Linked DNA regions of Homo sapiens. The protein of the gene in region 1 purifies or fractionates together with the protein of each later gene. This does not show direct contact. Each region holds a gene or a part of one and is shown in the gene's direction. Other genes may lie near its edges.

The links.
Region 2: the proteins of ACADS (region 1) and POGLUT1 fractionate together in Homo sapiens (co-fractionation; one large-scale study listed by BioGRID). This does not show direct contact.
Region 3: the proteins of ACADS (region 1) and P4HA2 fractionate together in Homo sapiens (co-fractionation; one large-scale study listed by BioGRID). This does not show direct contact.
Region 4: the proteins of ACADS (region 1) and CLIC4 fractionate together in Homo sapiens (co-fractionation; one large-scale study listed by BioGRID). This does not show direct contact.

What each region holds. Positions count from the first base shown.
Region 1 is NC_000012.12:120,728,201-120,732,982, forward strand, and holds part of ACADS (short-chain specific acyl-CoA dehydrogenase, mitochondrial isoform 1 precursor), read left to right. Parts: intron 1-4,782. UniProt on the Homo sapiens protein: Short-chain specific acyl-CoA dehydrogenase is one of the acyl-CoA dehydrogenases that catalyze the first step of mitochondrial fatty acid beta-oxidation, an aerobic process breaking down fatty acids into acetyl-CoA and allowing the production of energy from fats.
Region 2 is NC_000003.12:119,471,104-119,475,885, forward strand, and holds part of POGLUT1 (protein O-glucosyltransferase 1 precursor), read left to right. Parts: intron 1-205; coding exon 206-349; intron 350-4,782. UniProt on the Homo sapiens protein: Dual specificity glycosyltransferase that catalyzes the transfer of glucose and xylose from UDP-glucose and UDP-xylose, respectively, to a serine residue found in the consensus sequence of C-X-S-X-P-C.
Region 3 is NC_000005.10:132,189,011-132,193,792, reverse strand, and holds the end of P4HA2 (prolyl 4-hydroxylase subunit alpha-2 isoform 2 precursor), read left to right. Parts: intron 1-712; coding exon 713-783; 3' UTR 784-3,646; downstream 3,647-4,782. UniProt on the Homo sapiens protein: Catalyzes the post-translational formation of 4-hydroxyproline in -Xaa-Pro-Gly- sequences in collagens and other proteins.
Region 4 is NC_000001.11:24,800,576-24,805,357, forward strand, and holds part of CLIC4 (chloride intracellular channel protein 4), read left to right. Parts: intron 1-4,782. UniProt on the Homo sapiens protein: In the soluble state, catalyzes glutaredoxin-like thiol disulfide exchange reactions with reduced glutathione as electron donor. Can insert into membranes and form voltage-dependent multi-ion conductive channels.

The sequences.
Region 1 (4,782 bases):
CGTCCCAAAGTGCTGGGATTACAGGCGTGAGCCACCGTGCCCGGCCTGCTTGAACTGTTTTCTCCCCTGAGTTTCCCATCAGCGCGCTCCCTCCCGTGCCACTGTGTTCTTCCATTTGCATTCAGTCTGTCTGCAGCTACGCGTTGAAGATGTTACTGCCGTACACGCTGACCTAAAGATGTCCAGCACCTGGTGTAAACACTCAGTAGTAGATAGTTGTTTAATTAATGATTTGTGAAAAGTCAAACCTCTCCGGCCTCTTCTCCTTGCCTGTTTTTTTTTTTAATTTTAATTTTAATTTATTTTTTATTTTTAAAAATTTTTTGAGACAGTCTTGCTCTGTCACCAGGTTGGAGTGCAGTGGCGCGATCTCGGCTCACTGCAACCTCCGCCTTCTGAGTTCAAACAATTGTTTCCTGCCTCAGCCTCCCGAGTAGCTGGGATTACAGGCGCACACCACCATACCCGGCTAATTTTATGTATTTTAGTAGAGACGGGGTTTCACCGTGTTGCCCAGGCTGGTCTCAAACTCCTGAGCTCAGGCAATCCACCCGCCTCGGCCTCGCAAAGTGCTGGGATTACAGGCGTGAGCCACCACACCCGGCCTTAAAAATGAGTTTTAAAAGGGACGTAAAACATTGTTTTTATATGAGGGACCCACTAACCGTTTCCCAGATATGAAGGCAGCAGGTGCTGCAGGCTTGCCTTGTCTGTCACTGCTGGGAAAGGGGTCTTACAGTTTCTTACGGTTTCTCTTGGGAGTCTGGAGACCACCAGGCTCAGCCTCATCAGTGCTGTTGCCTCTTCTCAGGGTGCAGGTCAGGGTTGCTGGGTCACAGACACTAGGAACCAAGAGTGACCATTGCAGGGGGCTCTAGGAGGCCACCCCTTGAGATAGCTCTGAAGGTCAGGCCTCTCTGTAGAAAATACTAAAATATTGGGGCTGGGACGGGCGCCTGGCTGCTGTTAGTTAATTACCATCAATTTACATAGGTCAGAAACGATGGACAAACCCGAACCCATTTTTTTCCCTTGACTGCTTCTCTTTTTCTTTTTTCTTTTTTTTTTTTTTTTTGAGATGGAGTCTCACTCTGTCCCCCAGGCTGGAGTGCAGTGGTGCGATCTTGGCTCACTGCAGCCTCTGTCTCCCAGGTTCAAGTGATTATCCTGCCTCAGCCTCCCAGGTAGCTGGTACTACAGGTGCCCGCCACCATGCCTGGCTAATTTTTGTATTTTTAGTAGAGATGGGGTTTCACCATGTTGGCCAGGCTGGTCTTGAACTCCTGACCTCAGGTGACCTGGCTGCCTCAGCCTCCCAAACTGCTGGGATTACAGGTGTGAGCCACTGCTTAATTATATTTTGGGTTTCTCCTTTTTGACTGTCTCGTCTCTTCCCTCTCCTGCCACCCCTTTTTCCTTCCCTCGGTGCTGGTCTCCCTGTCTCTTTTTCAGGAGGCCCTTTAACGAGTGCACATTACCATGGTTATTGCTTTTGTCCCCACTTTTTTTCTAGAATGTTCCTGTAGCTGGCCACAGTTTGTTGCCTGAAATCTAGAGATAAATTTCAGAGTGAGAAGGCCTGGGAAACAGCCCCTGTCACCACTGATAAAATGGGGTGAGGTGACTGTGTCCAGGCTCTGGGATGGGATGGAGAAGGCTGTGCTCTTAGGTGCTGCCCCAGAGCGGTGCTCCTCTCTTTTGAAATTTGCTGTCTCAACACCAGAGTGGGAGTGAGTGGAACTGCCATGTCTTTCACAGCCACAGGTAGATGCTTTATTTTTTAAATTATTTTTGTGTGTGTGTGATGGAGTCTCGCTCTGTCCCCAGGCTGGAGTACAGTGGTGCGATCTCGGCTCACTGTAGCCTTTGCCTCCTGGGTTCAAGCAATTTTCCTGCCTCAGCCTCCCAAGTAGCTGGAACTACAGGTGCGCACCACCACACCCGGCTAATTTTTGTCTTTTTAGTAGAGACGGGGTTTCACCATGTTGGCCAGGCTGGTCTCGAACTCTTGACTTTGTTATCCGCCCGCCTGGGCCTCCCAAAGTTCTGGGATTACAGGCATGAGCCACCGCGCCCAGCTGGTAGATGCTGTAAAAGAAAATGCTGATGGTGAGAAAGGAGGGAAGACAGGAGCTGGGGGAAAATTGAGGGCGATGGTATATGCTAGTGAGGTCCTTTGGGTGTGGGAATTGTGAATTCCTACAACTTTTGATTCTAGCTCATTGAGAAGTGTCGCATTAGTCAGAGGGAGGCGGCGCTGTGTAGGGAGGAGGAGGCTGGGGTTCTGTCTTGCCTCCTGGTGGCCTAGACCTGGCCACTGACACCACATACCCTTTCTGTGTGAATTCCCTCATCTGTAAGAGGAATATGGGGTCACCCTCATTCTGCTACCTGTCGGGACGTGTGACCAAGCATTTTAGGTGAGTATGAGGAACTGAACGCACCTAGGAGAGTTTCATCCTTTTACTCTCTTTCTGGGAATTTGGGTTCCCACTGTGTTTCTGGGGATGAGATGGAGTTATGGAGCGATTGGCTCATGTGCCATTTATTCCAGGGTTTTATACCAACAAGTTCCGGGGTGAAAAGGAGGGTGTGTCTCTGTCCAGGGAGATCTGAAGGTGCTTGGAGGGTGAGGCGGCTTGAGCTAGTTTAGCCTTATTCTGTTTTGCTGGTAAGCTAGAGAAAAAGGCTTTTGGTGAGGTTCATGCCTAGGCCTGACCGTGAGTCTTGGACAACTGCATATTTATTTTTGTTTTTGTTTTTTTGAGACAGGGCCTCACTGTCGCCCAGGCTGGAGTGCAGTGACACAAACACAGCTCACTGCAGCCTTGACCTCCCGGGCTCAGGGCTCAAGTGATCCTCATGCCTCACCTCCTGCAGTAGCTGGGACCACAGGTGTGCACCGCCATGCCTGGCTCATTTATTTTTATTTTTATAACTTTTTGTGGAGATGGGGGTCTCGCCATGTTGATGAAGCTGGTCTCAAACGCCTGGACTCAGATGATCCTCCTACCTCCGTCTCCCAAAGTGCTGGGATTACAGGCCTGAGCTACCACACCCTCTTTTTAAAATTTTTTTAATTAAAAAATTTTCTTTTAGAAACAGGGGTATCATCATGTTGGCCAGGCTGGATTTGAACGCCTGGGCTCAAGTGATTCTCCTGCCTCAACCTCCTCCTGAGTAGCTGGAGACCTGCGTATTTCTAGCACTTGGTAGAGTATTGTCCAGCAGCAGAGGTGTTCCTTAATAAAATAGTTTTTTTTTTTTTTTTTGAGGCGGAGTCTCACTCTGTTGCCCAGGCTGGAGTATAGTGGCACGATCTTGGCTCACTGCAACCTCCACCTCCTGGGTACAAATGATTCTCCTGTCTCAGCCTCCCAAGTAGCTGGGATTATAGGCGCCCACCATCACGCCTGGCTAATTCTTGTATTTATTTTATTTTATTTTATTTTTTTTATTGATCATTCTTGGGTGTTTCTCGCAGAGGGGGATTTGGCAGGGTCATAGGACAATAGTGGAGGGAAGGTCAGCAGATAAACAAGTGAACAAAGGTCTCTGGTTTTCCTAGGCAGAGGACCCTGCGGCCTTCCGCAGTGTTTGTGTCCCTGGGTACTTGAGATTAGGGAGTGGTGATGACTCTTAAGGAGCATGCTGCCTTCAAGCATCTGTTTAACAAAGCACATCTTGCACCGCCCTTAATCCATTTAACCCTGAGTGGATACAGCACATGTTTCAGAGAGCACAGGGTTGGGGGTAAGGTCATAGATCAACAGCATCCCAAGGCAGAAGAATTTTTCTTAGTACAGAACGAAATGAAGTCTCCCATGTCTACTTCTTTCTACACAGACACAGCAACCATCCGATTTCTCAATCTTTTCCCCACCTTTCCCCCTTTTCTATTCCACAAAACTGCCATCGTCATCATGGCCTGTTCTCAATGAGCTGTTGGGTACACCTCCCAGACGGGGTGGTGGCCGGGCAGAGGGGCTCCTCACTTCCCAGTACGGGCGGCCGGGCAGAGGCGCCCCTCACCTCCCGGACGGGGCGGCTGGCCGGGCGGGGGCTGACCCCCACCTCCCTCCCGGACGGGGCGGCTGGCCGGGCGGGGGCTGCCCCCAACCTCCCTCCCGGACGGGGTGGCTGCCGGACGGGGTGGCTGCCGGGCGGAGACGCTCCTCACTTCCCAGACGGGGTGTCTGCTGGGCGGAGGGGCTCCTCACTTCTCAGACGGGGTGGCTGCCAGGCAGAGGGGCTCCTCACTTCTCAGATGGGGTGGCTGCCGGGCGGAGGGGCTCCTCACTTCTCGGGGCGGGCAGGCAGAGACACTCCTCACCTCCCAGACGGGGTGGCGGTCGGGCAGAGACACTCCTCAGTTCCCAGACGGGGTCGCGGCCGGGCAGAGGCGCTCCTCACATCCCAGACGGGGCAGTGGGGCAGAGGCGCTCCCCACATCTCAGACGATGGGCGGCCGGGCAGAGACGCTCCTCACTTCCTAGATGGGATGGCGGCCGGGAAGAGGCGCTCCTCACTTCCCAGACTGGGCAGCCGGGCAGAGGGGCTCCTCACATCCCAGACGATGGGCGGCCAGGCAGAGACGCTCCTCATTTCCCAGACGGGGTGGCGGCCGGGCAGAGACTGCAATCTCGGCACTTTGGGAGGCCAAGGCAGGCGGCTGGGAGGTGGAGGTTGTAGCGAGCTGAGATCAAGCCACTGCACTCCAGCCTGGGCAACATTGAGCACTGAGTGAACGAGACTCCGTCTGCAATCCCGGCACCTCGGGAG
Region 2 (4,782 bases), on another chromosome or scaffold:
CGCTTTTTACTTTTTATTGCTTTATTGCATTTGATGTTTCAGATTACCTACAGGGCTTCTAGGGAAGAGCTGCTCATTCTCACTCTCGATTCTTTCCTTCCACTTACTGTGTTCTCTAATACGAAACCTAAATGCACTTAGGAAGTAGGTGGAATGGCACCACTCTCTTGGCCTGCTTTCCTTGATGACTCCCATTCTTTCCCAGTGTCATAGAAGAGGATCTAACTCCTTTCCGAGGAGGCATCTCCAGGAAGATGATGGCAGAGGTAGTCAGACGGAAGCTAGGGACCCACTATCAGATCACTAAGAACAGACTGTACCGGGAAAATGACTGCATGTTCCCCTCAAGGTAAGAGTTAACGAGGTAGATATATCTTCTGACTTTATTACATATGGGCTTGATACCCTTTTATAGAGGAGCCAATTCATGGGACTAACAAGCAGATCCCTCCTCACATTTCAGGCGGACTATGAAATAGTGACGAGCTCTTCTCCTTGCCTGGGAATTTTTCTTGCGAGCTCCTCTCAAAGCCTGTCTCCTCTGTGAGGCTTGGTTCATCACTGGTTGTACTGGTGGTGGCTCTGCCTCTTCTGCTCCTTCCCTGGGATATAGTAGCGGCAGGACACAGGCTGATGAGGCCTAGCAGGCCTAGCAGGAGGGAGCTAGGCTGAAGGAGGAAGAGGAATTGGTTGAATGTCTGTCATCGGCCAGTGTAGTTCTAGATACTGAATATTCAAGGGGAGGTGGTAGAGTCAAGAGGAGTAACTAGATGGGGTGGTGGTGGCTCACACCTGTGATCCCAGCACTTTGTGGTGGATTACTTGAGCCCAGGAGTTGGATTATGGCAAATAATCCGGCAGTGGCAAATAATACAACAGAGTGAGACCCTGTCTATTAAAAAATAAATAAATAAAGAGGAGTAACTAGTGCTGCAAATTACACTAGCCAGGACTTCAGAACTTCAGGTGTGAGACCTGAGGTACCATGTCAGTGGGCTGAAGGCAGGGTGGTAAGCAGGGAGGGTCATGGGCTGAGGGTGGAGGTTGGGTTTAGGCAGCATTGCACACACCAAAAGATAAACTTTATTTTTGGAGTTTGTTTTTTTTTTTTAACTCAGATCTTTATAAAATTAGAAGGTACAAAACTCAGAGGGCATAATATTCCCTTATGTAAGAGCATCTTTCTAAACAATCCCTATTCTGTCATTAAAAGTGAAATAAATGTGCAGAGTTGCAAAAAATTATCGATTCGTTCATAAAGATTTGTATTATTTGTATTTAATAACAACTTTGTAAGAATTTAATATTTATTCTTATAAGTATATAAACAAGGCCGGGTGCGGTGGCTCAAGCCTGTAATCCCAGCACTTTGGGAGGCTGAGATGAGCGGATCACTTGAAGTCGGGAGTTTGAGACCAAACTGACCAACATGGAGAAACCCTGTCTTTACTAAAAATACAAAATTAGCCAGCTGTGGTGGCGCATGCCTGTAATCCCAGCTACTCAGGAGGCTGAGGCAGGAGAATTGCTTGAACCCAGGAGGCAGAGGTTGCGGTGAGCTGAGATTGTGCCATTGCACTCCAGGCTGGGAAACAAGAGCGAAACTGTCTAAATAAATAAATAAATAAATGTAAACAAGAAAACAGGCTGGGCATGGTGGCTTGTGCCTATAATCCCAGCACTTCGGGAAGTCAATGCACGCAGATCGCTTGAGCTCAGGAGTTCAAGACGAGCCTAGGCCACATGGCAAAACCTCATCTCTACAAAAAATACAAACATTAGCTGAGTGTGGTGGCATGTGTTTGTAGTCCTAGCTACTTGGGAGGCTGAAGTGAGTGGATCACCTGAGCCCAGGAGGTCAAGGCTGCAGTAAGCCTGAGCCGTGATTATGCCACTGCACTCCAGCCAGGGTGATAGAGCAAGACCTGTCTCAAATAAATAATAATAAAGAACAATAAAAAAGAAAGATTATTTAATATCTCACTACCCTGAGGAAATCAGTTACCCTTTGGCTATCAGATATCGGAGGAAATAAGGTTGTAGAGGAAAAAATCGTTAAGGTATTTTAAACAGACATTTGTTTCATTATTTGGAACTCAATAATAGAGACTTTAAGTACAAATTGTGAGTCTAGGAGAATTTTTGATTTCCACAGATGAGAAATAAAATAAGAATATAGACATTGTTGGACTTTGAAAGCTTACCCAATGTTTAATAGTTTGCTGAACAATTGCCAAATGAAATGAAATGCTTTCAAAGTTTCTGAAAGGCACAATTCTCTTCTTCCTGAGCTCAGAACATTTTGGTCATAATCATGAGCTTAGAAATGTTCTGAAGGGAGTACAGGACCTTCATTAGCAATAAAATAATATATATTTCCAATGACACTGAAAGTTCCCTATCCTAGCTACATATACAACTAAGGAAAACAGAGAGGGACAAAATACGAATAGAATGCAGTATTCCAAAACACAATCCTGAATGAAATGCACACAGTCGTATGATATCTCAAAGATTCCCATATAGTTAGAAATAATATCTTTCTACGTCTAGATACTTTTTTTTTTTTTTTTGAGAGAGAGAATCTCACTCTGTCACCCAGTCTGGAGTGCAGTGGTGTGATCTCGGCTCACTGCAACCTCTGCCTCCCGGGTTCAAGCCATTCTCTTGCCTCAGCCTGCTGAGTAGCTGGGACTACAGGCGCCCGCCACCACACCTGGCTAATTTTTGTGTTTTTAGTAGAGACGGGGTTTCACCTCGTTCGTCAGGCTGGTCTCAAACTCCTGACCTCATGATCTGCCTGCCTCGGCCTCCCAAAGTGCTGGGATTACAGGCAGGTCTAGATACTTTTAACTCATCCAGTTTCAGAAATCTATGTGACATTTTAAAAACTCAGTTTTGAATAAAATAAAATATAAACTCCACATTTCAAGGATGAGCAGAGGAACCAGAGGTTTATCTAATTAATGCTAGAGACAAGTCATTTCAAAGATGAGGAGTAATGGTATTTTTTAATAACAGCTTTATTGAGGTGTGGTTAACATAAATTACATATAAAGTATACAATGTAAATGTTCCCACAACAAAAAAATAGTATGTGAGGATATGTTAATTAGCTTGATATACTCATTCCACAATGTAAACATATATCAAAACATTACATTGTATCCTGTAAATATGTACAATTATTATTTATCAATTAAAAATAAAACCTACAGTGTACACTGATAAGTCTTCATGTATGTTTATACCAAGATAATGAACCTTCCATCACAACCAAAACGTTCCTTCTGCCTCTTTGCATTCCCTCTCTCCTGCGTCTCCCTGTCTCCCTCTCCTCCCCATGCCCCACCTTCAGGCAGCCGCTGACTACTTTCTCGAATTATAGATTATTTTCTAGTTTTCTATAAATGGAATCATATAAGAGAGTATATTTGAAAAGCCAAATGTGGCCGGGCATGGTGGATCACACCTGTAATCCCAGCAGTTTGGGAGGCTGAGGTGAGTGGATCACTTGAGGTCAGGAGTTCGAGATCACCCTGGCCAATATGGTGAAACCCCGACTCTACTAAAAATACAAAAAAATTTAGCCAGGCATGGTGGCAGGCGCCTGTAATCCCAGCTACTTGGGAGGCTGAGGCAGGAAAATCGCTTGAACCCGGGAGGCGGAGGTTACAGTGAGCTAAGACCACGCCATTACACTCCAGCCTGGTCAACAAGAAAGAAACTCCATCTCAAAAAATAAAAATTAAATTAAACTAAATTAAAAGCCAAATGTGAAAGAAATACGAGCATTTTAGCTGTAATGTATAAATTGTACTGCAATATTTTTTTACATTTTTTAACTAGTTTTTTTTTTCTTTTAGTGTCAAAGAGTATTACATACACTTTGGATATGTAAAATATCCAAATATTTTACCATGCTAAAATATTTGGATACCTCCAAAAGACATTCAGTGAAAAGGAAGTTTCTCTTCCACCTCAGACCCTCAGACTGCTAGTCCCTGAGACCTCTTTTCAAAAGACAATTAGAATTCTGTGTCTTGTATATCCTTCTAGAAATAGTCTGTACATTTACAAGCATCTAGACTCATCAACAAAATAAAACATGCTGTCTTCTGTTCTGCACTTAGATTTCTTTTCCATATAACAGTAGATTTTGAGATTGTTCCATAAGAGTCCATAGAGAATGCCTCACTTTTTCATGGCTGCATAATAACTTATTATATGGATTTCTTTATTCAGCCCTCTATCAGTGGACATTTAGATTATCCCTTACCACATCACTTTGCTTTTTGGATAACGCAAGCAATGCTGCAGTGAACATCCTTGTTACTGTGAACACTCATGTAAATATATATGTAGGCTAAATTCCTAAAAGTATAATAACTAGGGCAATTAATGTCATTTTAAAATCTTGATAAATAGGCTGGGTGAGGTGGCTCACGCCTGTTATCCCAGCACTTTGGATGGCTGAGACAGGCAGATCATCTGAGGTCAGGAGTTCAAGACCAGCCTGGCCAACATGGTGAGAACCTATCTCTACTAAAAATAAAAAAATTAGCTGGGCATGGTGGCCTGTGCCTGTAATCCTAGCTACTCGGGAGGCTGAGGCAGGAGAATCACTTGAAACCCGAGGTGGAGGTTGCAGTCAGCTGAGATTGCGCCATTGCACTCCAGCCTGGGCCACAGAGCAAGGCTCCATCTCAAAAAAAAAAAAAAATCTTGATAAACAGGCTGGGCACAGTGGCTCTCACCTGTAATCCCAGCACTTTGGGAGGC
Region 3 (4,782 bases), on another chromosome or scaffold:
TCATGGTTCCTGTGTGTTTGAAGATATGGCGTGGGGTGATAGTGCTGGCAGCAGCTCTGTTGCTCTTGTGCCCATGGCATACAGACTGGATCTGCTGGTCCACGGCTCCTGAGGTTAATGTCCAAGCCCTCTGCAATGCTGACAGTCTTCCTCATCCTCACACCCTACCTCTCAGTTTCTACCTGCCACCTCCCAGTAATATTAGGCCTCTTGAGTCCCCAACACACGTCAGGGTGGCTTCTGCCTTGATTACTTTCTCATCCTGTTGTCACTCCTGGGACCCTCTTGGTGAGAGAACCATCTGGGTATGCCCATCTTCTTCCCAGGATAACTTCTATGTAGCTTTATATTCTAGCCCTAGGATTTCCTCTTCCCTCTAAGAGCAAGAAACATGTGTGCAGGTTGCCATGGGAATAGAGCCAAAGGGCATCAAAGGTCATGGGCATGAAAGGGCATGATTAGATGCCCTTGGGTGCTATTCCCATGGCAACCTGCACACATGTATCTTGTCCCACTGGCAGAATTTCATACAATTATCTGTTTACATGTGTCTTCCTTACCAATTCTTCAGCAAATTGAGGCCTGAGATCATGTCTTGTCTTATTTGTGTCTGATTCCAGGGCACAGTGCAGGGGGTCATCATGAAGGAGTCATTCATTCAGGCTACTAAACTGACCAATAGGATTGTAACATGCTTGCTTTCTTTTCACAGTCTCCAATAAGTGGTTCCATGAACGAGGACAGGAGTTCTTGAGACCTTGTGGATCAACAGAAGTTGACTGACATCCTTTTCTGTCCTTCCCCTTCCTGGTCCTTCAGCCCATGTCAACGTGACAGACACCTTTGTATGTTCCTTTGTATGTTCCTATCAGGCTGATTTTTGGAGAAATGAATGTTTGTCTGGAGCAGAGGGAGACCATACTAGGGCGACTCCTGTGTGACTGAAGTCCCAGCCCTTCCATTCAGCCTGTGCCATCCCTGGCCCCAAGGCTAGGATCAAAGTGGCTGCAGCAGAGTTAGCTGTCTAGCGCCTAGCAAGGTGCCTTTGTACCTCAGGTGTTTTAGGTGTGAGATGTTTCAGTGAACCAAAGTTCTGATACCTTGTTTACATGTTTGTTTTTATGGCATTTCTATCTATTGTGGCTTTACCAAAAAATAAAATGTCCCTACCAGAAGCCTTAAAGAGCCTTACTTGGAGTATTTTTAAGACTGGAAGCTTTTACCAGGTTCATCATTTCCTATGCATCACCTTCATGCAGGCAGAGTCTGGATAATGAATGCTTTAGCAGCAAAAAAGCATCTTGGGTCTTGGATTTCAGACCTGGTTTCAACACTTGTGTTCCCTCTAAGTGTCAGTGTCCTTTTCTGGAAAGTAGGGTAAATAGTTTCTCTTTGTCTCCCAGAGAACATAGCACATGTGTTCATGATTGTAATGCTGTTATAATGTGTACTTCATTTTTAAATTTTGAGATAAGAATTGTTCATGATACACAGATGTATACTTAAAAAAATATGAAGGTGAGCAGGAGCACCTGTGTCAACACCAAGTTAGAAAAGAGAACGTTTTCAAGTCAGTACCTCAGGAGCCCCTTGGGAACCCCTCCTAGATCACATCTCCTTCACTGCCCCCAGCACTTTGGAGATAAATCATTGTCTCATGATGTGTGGTACTCATTCCTTTGCTTGTCTTTATAGTTTTACCATCTATGATTAGATCCCTAAATAAGTAGTTATTCTGTTTTCCCTGATTTTGAACTTTTACTAATAGAATGAGAGTAAATATTTTTGGGTATGTGGCTTCTTTTGTTCAACATTGTTTTAAGATTCATCCGTGTTGCTTGTGTAGCTGTAATTTGTTTTAATCTTTATAGTACATTCAGTTTTGTTAATGCTTATTGTAGGACTGTACCATAATACAGGCAGCATGCTGCTGATAAACACTGGAATTGATTTCAGTCTTTGTATATTGTGAATAATGCTGTGATAAACATTTTTATACATGATTCCTGGTGCACATATAAACACATATTTCTGTAGGATATATATCTAGGAGTGGAAATGTGGAGTCTTAATGGTGTTCCAACTTTACTAAATAATGTATTCCAAGGTGGTTATACACATTCTCACCAGGAGTAAATGAGAGTTATTACCCCAATCTTTTCCAGTATTTAGTATTTTCATACTTTTGAATTTTAGCTAGCTTGGTACATGTTACGGACTAAATGTTTGTGTCCCCCCACCAGATTCATATGTTGAAATCTTTTTTTTTTTTTTTTTTTTTGAGACGGAGTCTCGCTCTGTCGCCCAGGCTGGAGTGCAGTGGCGGGATCTCGGCTCACTGCAAGCTCCGCCTCCCGGGTTCACGCCATTCTCCTGCCTCAGCCTCCCAAGTAGCTGGGACTACAGGCGCCCGCCACTACGCCCGGCTAATTTTTTGTATTTTTAGTAGAGACGGGGTTTCACCGTTTTAGCCGGGATGGTCTCGATCTCCTGACCTCGTGATCCGCCCGCCTCGGCCTCCCAAAGTGCTGGGATTACAGGCGTGAGCCACCGCGCCCGGCCCATATGTTGAAATCTTAACCCCCAATGTGATGATATTAGGATGCGGAGCCCTTGGGAGGTCGTAAGCATGGAGCCCACGTGAGTGGGATTAGTGCCCTTATGAAGAGATCCCAGCCCTCTTTCTGCCATGCGAACACACAGCAAGAAGATGCCTGTCTATGAACCAGGGGGCCCTTACCAGAAACAAACCTACTAGCATCTTGATCTCGGACTTTCCAGTTCCCATAACCATGAGAAATAAATGTTTTTAATTCAATGTATGGTATTTTATTATAGCAGCTCTACCTAAGACAGTACATGTATAGTGTCTATTTGAACATTACTGATAATGTTGAACAACTTTTCATGTTTATTAGTTATTAGGTTTCTTCAAGTGTTCTTATTCATACAAATTTTAAAATATGTACACAAGTTCTTTGTTATATATTTTGCAAATATCTTCTGTGGCTTGTCTTTTCACTATTTTAGTTCTGTCTTTTGATAAACAGGAGCTTTTAATTTTTATGTCAAATCTATCAAGCTTTTTCTTTTTGATTTATGTTTTTTATGTCTTATTTGAGAAATCCTTCTATACCCCAAGATCATGAGGATGTTTCCTGTGTTCTCTTCTGAAAGCTATATAGTCTTTGTCATTTAGGTTTATCTTTATACGTGGTATGAAGTGTAAAGTTCTACTTTTAATTTTTTGCATATTTTATTAGGATAGGATGGGCTTTTTCTGTAGTAATAATCCTTAAATCTCAGGGGCTTAATATATAAAATTGTCTCATGCAAAAAACCACTGGGTCTAGGGCAATTGCTATCTACTGCCGTCTAATCTCCCTCTAGTGGCTTCCATTGGTAGACCCTAACAGGAAGCCAGCTGATAAGGGAATCTGGGAAATGTAGTTTACAGAGTGGCAGCTACAGTAGAACAGTAGAGACTACAAGGATGAGCTTGCAGCTGAGAATAGAAACGTGACTGGCACACTAGGTGGTTTGTTTGTAGGTTTTTTCTTTTCCTGTTTGAGACTTTTTTGGATTCTTGAATTTGTACAATGGTATCCTTAATCAATTGTGGAAAATTAAATGATTTTTTCTTTCAGCATTGTCTGTTTCTTCTGTAACTGATTAAATGTAAGTTGGATCATATCATGATATTATCTCTTAATCTGTCTTTCATATTTTTATATATATGCTATATTTGGGGAGAACTTTATAGCTGTTTTGTACAAAGTTCACTAATTCTGTCTTCTATCAAGTGCATACAGGAGTCTGTTTAAGGACTTTAAAGATGTAATTCTTTGTTTTCTGGCTTATACCATTTCTGTTGAAAAGTCGCTATCTGGTCCTTTGTTGTTCCTTTGAAGGTGATTTTGCCTTCACCTGGCTGCTTTAAAGATTTTTTTCTTTTTGGTTTTCAGTAGTTTTACTATGGTGTACTTAGTATGGGTTTCTTTTTCTTTTCTTGCTTGGCATTTAGCTTCTTGAATTTCTGGGTTGATGTCTGATCAATTTTGGAAATTTCTCAGACATTATATCTTCAACTATTGTTTCTGTCCCATTTTTTCTCTATCTGCTCTGAGACTTCAGTAATCTGAATGTTAGAACTTTTCATAGTGCTCTATATATCTCCAGTTCTTGTGTCTCTCATGCTTTTTTCTTTGTGTTTCAGACTAGATATTTTATACTGATCTGTCTTGCAATTCATTTATTACTTTTGCTGCTAAACCCATCTACTGAGTTCTTAATTTCATTTTTCTTATATTTCTCAGTTCTAAAATATCCATTCATGTCTTTTTTTTTTTTTTTTTTCCTTGAGACGGAGTCTTTCTCTGTCACCCAGGCTCGAGTGCAGTGGCGGGATCTCAGCTCACTGCACCCTCTGTCTCCCAGATTAAAGCAATTTTCCCACCTCAGCCTCCCAAGTAGTTGGGATTAGAGGCACGCACCACCACACCCAGCTAATTTTTGTATTTTTAGTAGAGATGGGGTTTTGTCATGTTGGCCAGGCTGGTCGCAAACTCCTGACCTCAAGTGATCCACCTGCCTCAGCCTCCCAAAATGTTGGGATTACAGGCGTGAGCCACCACGGTTGGCCCATTCATGTCCTTTTAATGGATTTTAACTCTCTGGAGAATCTGTCTTCTGTTTTCTCTGTGTTTTTCTCGGACTGATAAATCAGTTATGTGAATTTTTTTGTCCGATAACGCCATGATTTCGATTTTCTATGGCTCTCTT
Region 4 (4,782 bases), on another chromosome or scaffold:
TCATTGAGAATGGGCCAGGATGACAATGGCGGCTTTGTGGAATAGAAAGGCGGGAAAGGTGGGGAGAAGATTGAGAAATCGGATGGTTGCCGTGTCTGTGTAGAAAGAAGTAGACATGGGAGACTTTTCATTTTGTTCTGCACTAAGAAAAATTCTTCTGCCTTGGGATCTTGTTGGTCTGTGACCTTACCCCCAACCCTGTGCTCTCTGAAACGTGTGCTGTGTCCACTCAGGGTTAAATGGATTAAGGGTGGTGCAAGATGTGCTTTGCTAAACAGATGCTTGAAGGCAGCATGCTCGTTAAGAGTCATCACCACTCCCTAATCTCAAGTAATCAGGGACAAACACTGCGGAAGGCCGCAGGGTCCTCTGCCTAGGAAAACCAGAGACCTTTGTTCACTTGTTTATCTGCTGACCTTCCCTCCACTATTGTCCCATGACCCTGCCAAATCCCCCTCTGTGAGAAACACCCAAGAATTATCAATAAAAAAATAAATTAAAAAAAAAAAAAAGAATAGTTGTATTAATGGGAAAAACTAGGGTTTGGCAGTGGATTCCTCTTGATGCAAGTGTCACAACATGATTTGCTATTATACTGATTTTTAAAACTATTAGTCTGTTCTCACATTGCTATAAAGAACTACCTGAGACTGGGTAATTCATAAAGAAAAGAGGTTTAATTGACTGGCAGTTCTGCAGGTTGTACAGGAAACTTGTCTGGGGAGGCCTCAGGAGACTTACAAGTATGATAGAAGTCAAAGGGGAAGCAGACATGTCTTTCATGGCCGGAGAAGGAAGAAGAGAGAAGGGGGAGGTGTTACATATTTTTAAACAACCAGATCTTGTGAGAACTCACTCTCTGTCACAGGAACAGCAAGGGAAGTCTGCCCTTGTGATCCAGTCACCTCCCACAAGGCCCCTCTTCCACCATTGAAAATTACAATTTGATATGAGATTTGGGCAAGGACAGAAATTTAAACCATATTATATATCAAGTCATGAACAGTGTCCAGGAAAAGATATTGACAGCCTATCACTTGATAAAGTGGCAGAATTAATCTATGTTATCCCTCTGAGCATCACATGCTGATAGTTACCTGAGAGCTATAATTCCATTCCAAGTTCTAGGTTAGTGTACTCAGATTTCTGTCATTCCCTTAAAATACATTTTTACTTACTGCTAGTGCATATATTTGAAATTTTACAGACTTTAAAATTTATTGAACATAAGCCATAAAGTCATCAAGGAACCCCTTTAGTTATGTATATAAATGTAGAAATAAGCCTTTGGGAATAGTGAGTTAAAACTACAAGCTCTTGGGAAGACATTACCTTATTCATGTTGGGCAGAGATGTAAGAATGAAATAAGTCATGTAGTTACCCTTCTATTACTGTTTTTTTTTTATACATGTGTACACAAAGCAAGTTTCCCAATATAACTCCTAAAAATAGAGTGTGCCACCAGGCACACACCCTTACTGTGTCCTAAAATACATGAATTTCTCCTATTCCATTTTTGGCTTGGAGCAAGTGAGTTGACTGCCATTCTTTGAAAAAGCTGTCATTGAATAGTTTAATACAGTGCTTTAATTGTGATACATACCAGTAATAGTGCCATAAACATGGGAATCTGGGTCAGAAAAGGAAGTAAACCCATTATAGCTATTTCAGAGTTGTCTGTTTCTTTTCATTTGCAGATTTTTTAAAGGCATTATTCCTATAGGTTGATTGATATTTGCAGATTTGTATATATATGTTAAAGTGTGTATGTGGAAATATGTGTAAGTGTATATGTTAAGTGTTTATATATATAAAAAGTGGCGCATGGGAGGTAGGCATTCAGGGCCTTATAATTAGAAAATATCAAAGAAGATATATGTTTATTACCTAGGGCTTTATGTAAAATCAATGGTAGAGAGCACTTAAAATTGAAGCTTATATTTTTTGGTCTTTAACAATCATAGGTCTCCAGTAAATATAAAAAATGCTTCTTAGGGCAACTAAAACTAAGCAAGTAGTACGTGATAATGAGTCTGTACCATCCCTACCCCCTAGTCATCAACTTCCCCTTCAGAGAGATAATTTATTTTAGGTTTGGTCTTTATTCTTCCAAATCTTTTCCTTTTTTCTTTTTCTTTTTTTTTTTTTTTTGAGACACGGTCTGCCTCTGTCACCGAGGCTGGAGTGCAGTGGCACGATCACAGCTTACTCTGTAGCCTTGAGCTCCTGGGCTCAAGTAATCCTCCAGCCTCAGCCTCCCAAGTAGCTAGGACTACAGGCATTTACTGCCATACCTGGCTAATTTTTTATTTTTAAGAGACAGGGTCTCCCTGTGTTGCCCAGGCTGGTCTTGAACTCCTGGGCTCAAGCAGTCCTCTGGCCTTGGTCTCCCAAAGTGCTGGGATTACAGACTTTAGCCACTGTGCCTGGCCTCGTCCAAATCTTTTCTATGAGTTTACACACTTGCAGTCTTGAACAAAATTTTAAAGAGAAAGTACCTCAAGAAAGTGAGCATTGGTTCAAAAAACAAAAACAAACAACCCACCAGTATATATGAAAGTTATCACAGAGGAATAAAACATCCCTGTAGTACTTTTCATAATATATTCTTAATCTTAAAACATTAAATGTGACTCTTTTTAGAAATCTTGGGGGAGAAAATATGCCTACAGTGCTTATTTTCCTGCTTTTCCTGGTAATTGCCTAATATCTTGGTGAGAAGTACTGACTCCAGAACAAACCAGTGGAGAACAATAGAACTCCTCTGAGAGTTACTTAGCAGCTCACTCTATGATTTGAAAAAAATGATTGTTACATGACATTTCATCCATAAGAACAAGCCCATTTCTAGTTCTGGCACTGTATGACATGTTCTCTTTGAATCTCAGTTGGCATTAATGACTATGCTGGTAGTATTCATGTGTCCCTTGTGAGGCTGTGAACAATCTCCCATTACTTGCCTGCCAGAGCAGCCTTCGTGCTTTGGTGGGAGTCATTTCCAAATCTAATTTTCTGTTCATATTGCAATTTAAAGAACGTTTAGATAGAAAAAAAAGGGCCCAGGCTTCACAAAGAATTTCAATTTACATCAACGATTTGAACAAAAGCTTCAGATAATATAAGTGAAAATACTAAAATTGGGGCAGAGTTAAAGATGTTCTGGCATGTCATCAGTTGGGAAACAACCATGGCATAGTATAGAAAATTTCAGGAGTGAGACCTAGCTGTGTATGGAGAGAGCTCTATCACTGATTTCACTGGGACCTGGGGCGAGCTGCCTCATCTTCCTTGGAGTTAGTTACCTTATATTTAAAATCAGGAGAAAAGGGAAAAAAACTTCACTTTTGTAATAGTTTAAAATGTTACAATGGAACTATGAAACTGATAGTTCTGCATATCTTAAAAGGCAGTTAGAAACTCAGAAAAAAATCTGATTCCCAAATAGACTCTTCAGATAGTTTTATCTTCATGATCATGTCTCTGTGGTTCCACCTTTCTGAAAACAGTCTTCAGTAACTTAAGAAATCATTTCAACTTCCATGATCTTCAGTAGCAGCAGCATGAATGACACATGCCAAGAGACTAAATGGAATGAGATAAGCCTGTCTTTCAGAGACATCATCTATTTCCTGCTGCTGTCCAGACAGGAAAGTCAGACTCCATTTTTCCCCTTTGTAAAGTTGACTTGAGCTACATGAAGCACTTGTTAGAACAGTCCAATTCAAGATAATTGTGCTTTATGACTGCATTCAGAATCACATGTGTACCCACTGTGTGTGTGGGGGGTGTGTGTATGTGTGTGCATGTGTGTGGGTGGGTGGGTGGAGGGGGTGTGTGTGGGTAGGTGGGTGGTGGGGGTGTGTGTGTATGTGTGGGTGGGTGGGTGGTGGGGTGTGTGTAGGTGGGTTGGAGTGTGTGGGTTGAGGGTGTGTGTGTATGTGGGTGGGTGGGGGGATGTGTGTATGTGGGTGGGTGGGGGGATGTGTGTACGTGGGTGGGTGGGGATGTGTGTGTGTGTGTGATTGAGAGGGGAGGGAGATATAGACACACAGAGAGGGAGTATTTTGTTGCTATGTCTTTATGTTCTTTTTTAAGACGATTTCAAAGATGATACATCCTGTTGAGGCTGCTAAGAGCTGAATTAATAGAATTATTAGTGAATGTTTTTCTAAACCTGTTATCAGTATACACTTTACTCCTAAACTGTTATCAAGATGGTAAAAATTATAGACTCTATATTTGGGCCAGGCAAAGTGGCTCACTCTTGTAATCCCAGCGCTTTGAGAGGCCGGGGCAGGTGATCACTTGAGGTCAGGAGTTCAAGACCACCCTGGCCAACATGGTGAAATCCTGTCTCTACTAAAAATACAAAAATTAGTCGGGCATGGTGGTGAGTGCCTTAGTCCCAGCTACTCAGGAGGCTGAGGCAGGAGAATTGCTTGAATCCGGGAGGTGGAGGCAAATCACGCCACTGCACTCTAGCCTGGGCAACAGAGTGAGACTCCATGTCAAAAAAAAAAAAAAAAAAACACAAAAACAAAGACAAACGAATTATGGAATCCATATTTGAAATCTTTTCATGGGTACTATTTTTTTTGAAGTATTCCTCCACAGATTGACAATAAAATTGACATTAAAAGTAGACAGATTAACAATATTTAATCCAAATCAGTAAAATTCTTTAACTGGTTGAACTGGGACAAAGACAAATTCTTAGTGACAAGGGGTCTTGGTGTGTGTGTTTTGTTGAGTCCATGATTAATTTGTTCAATTAGTGACTT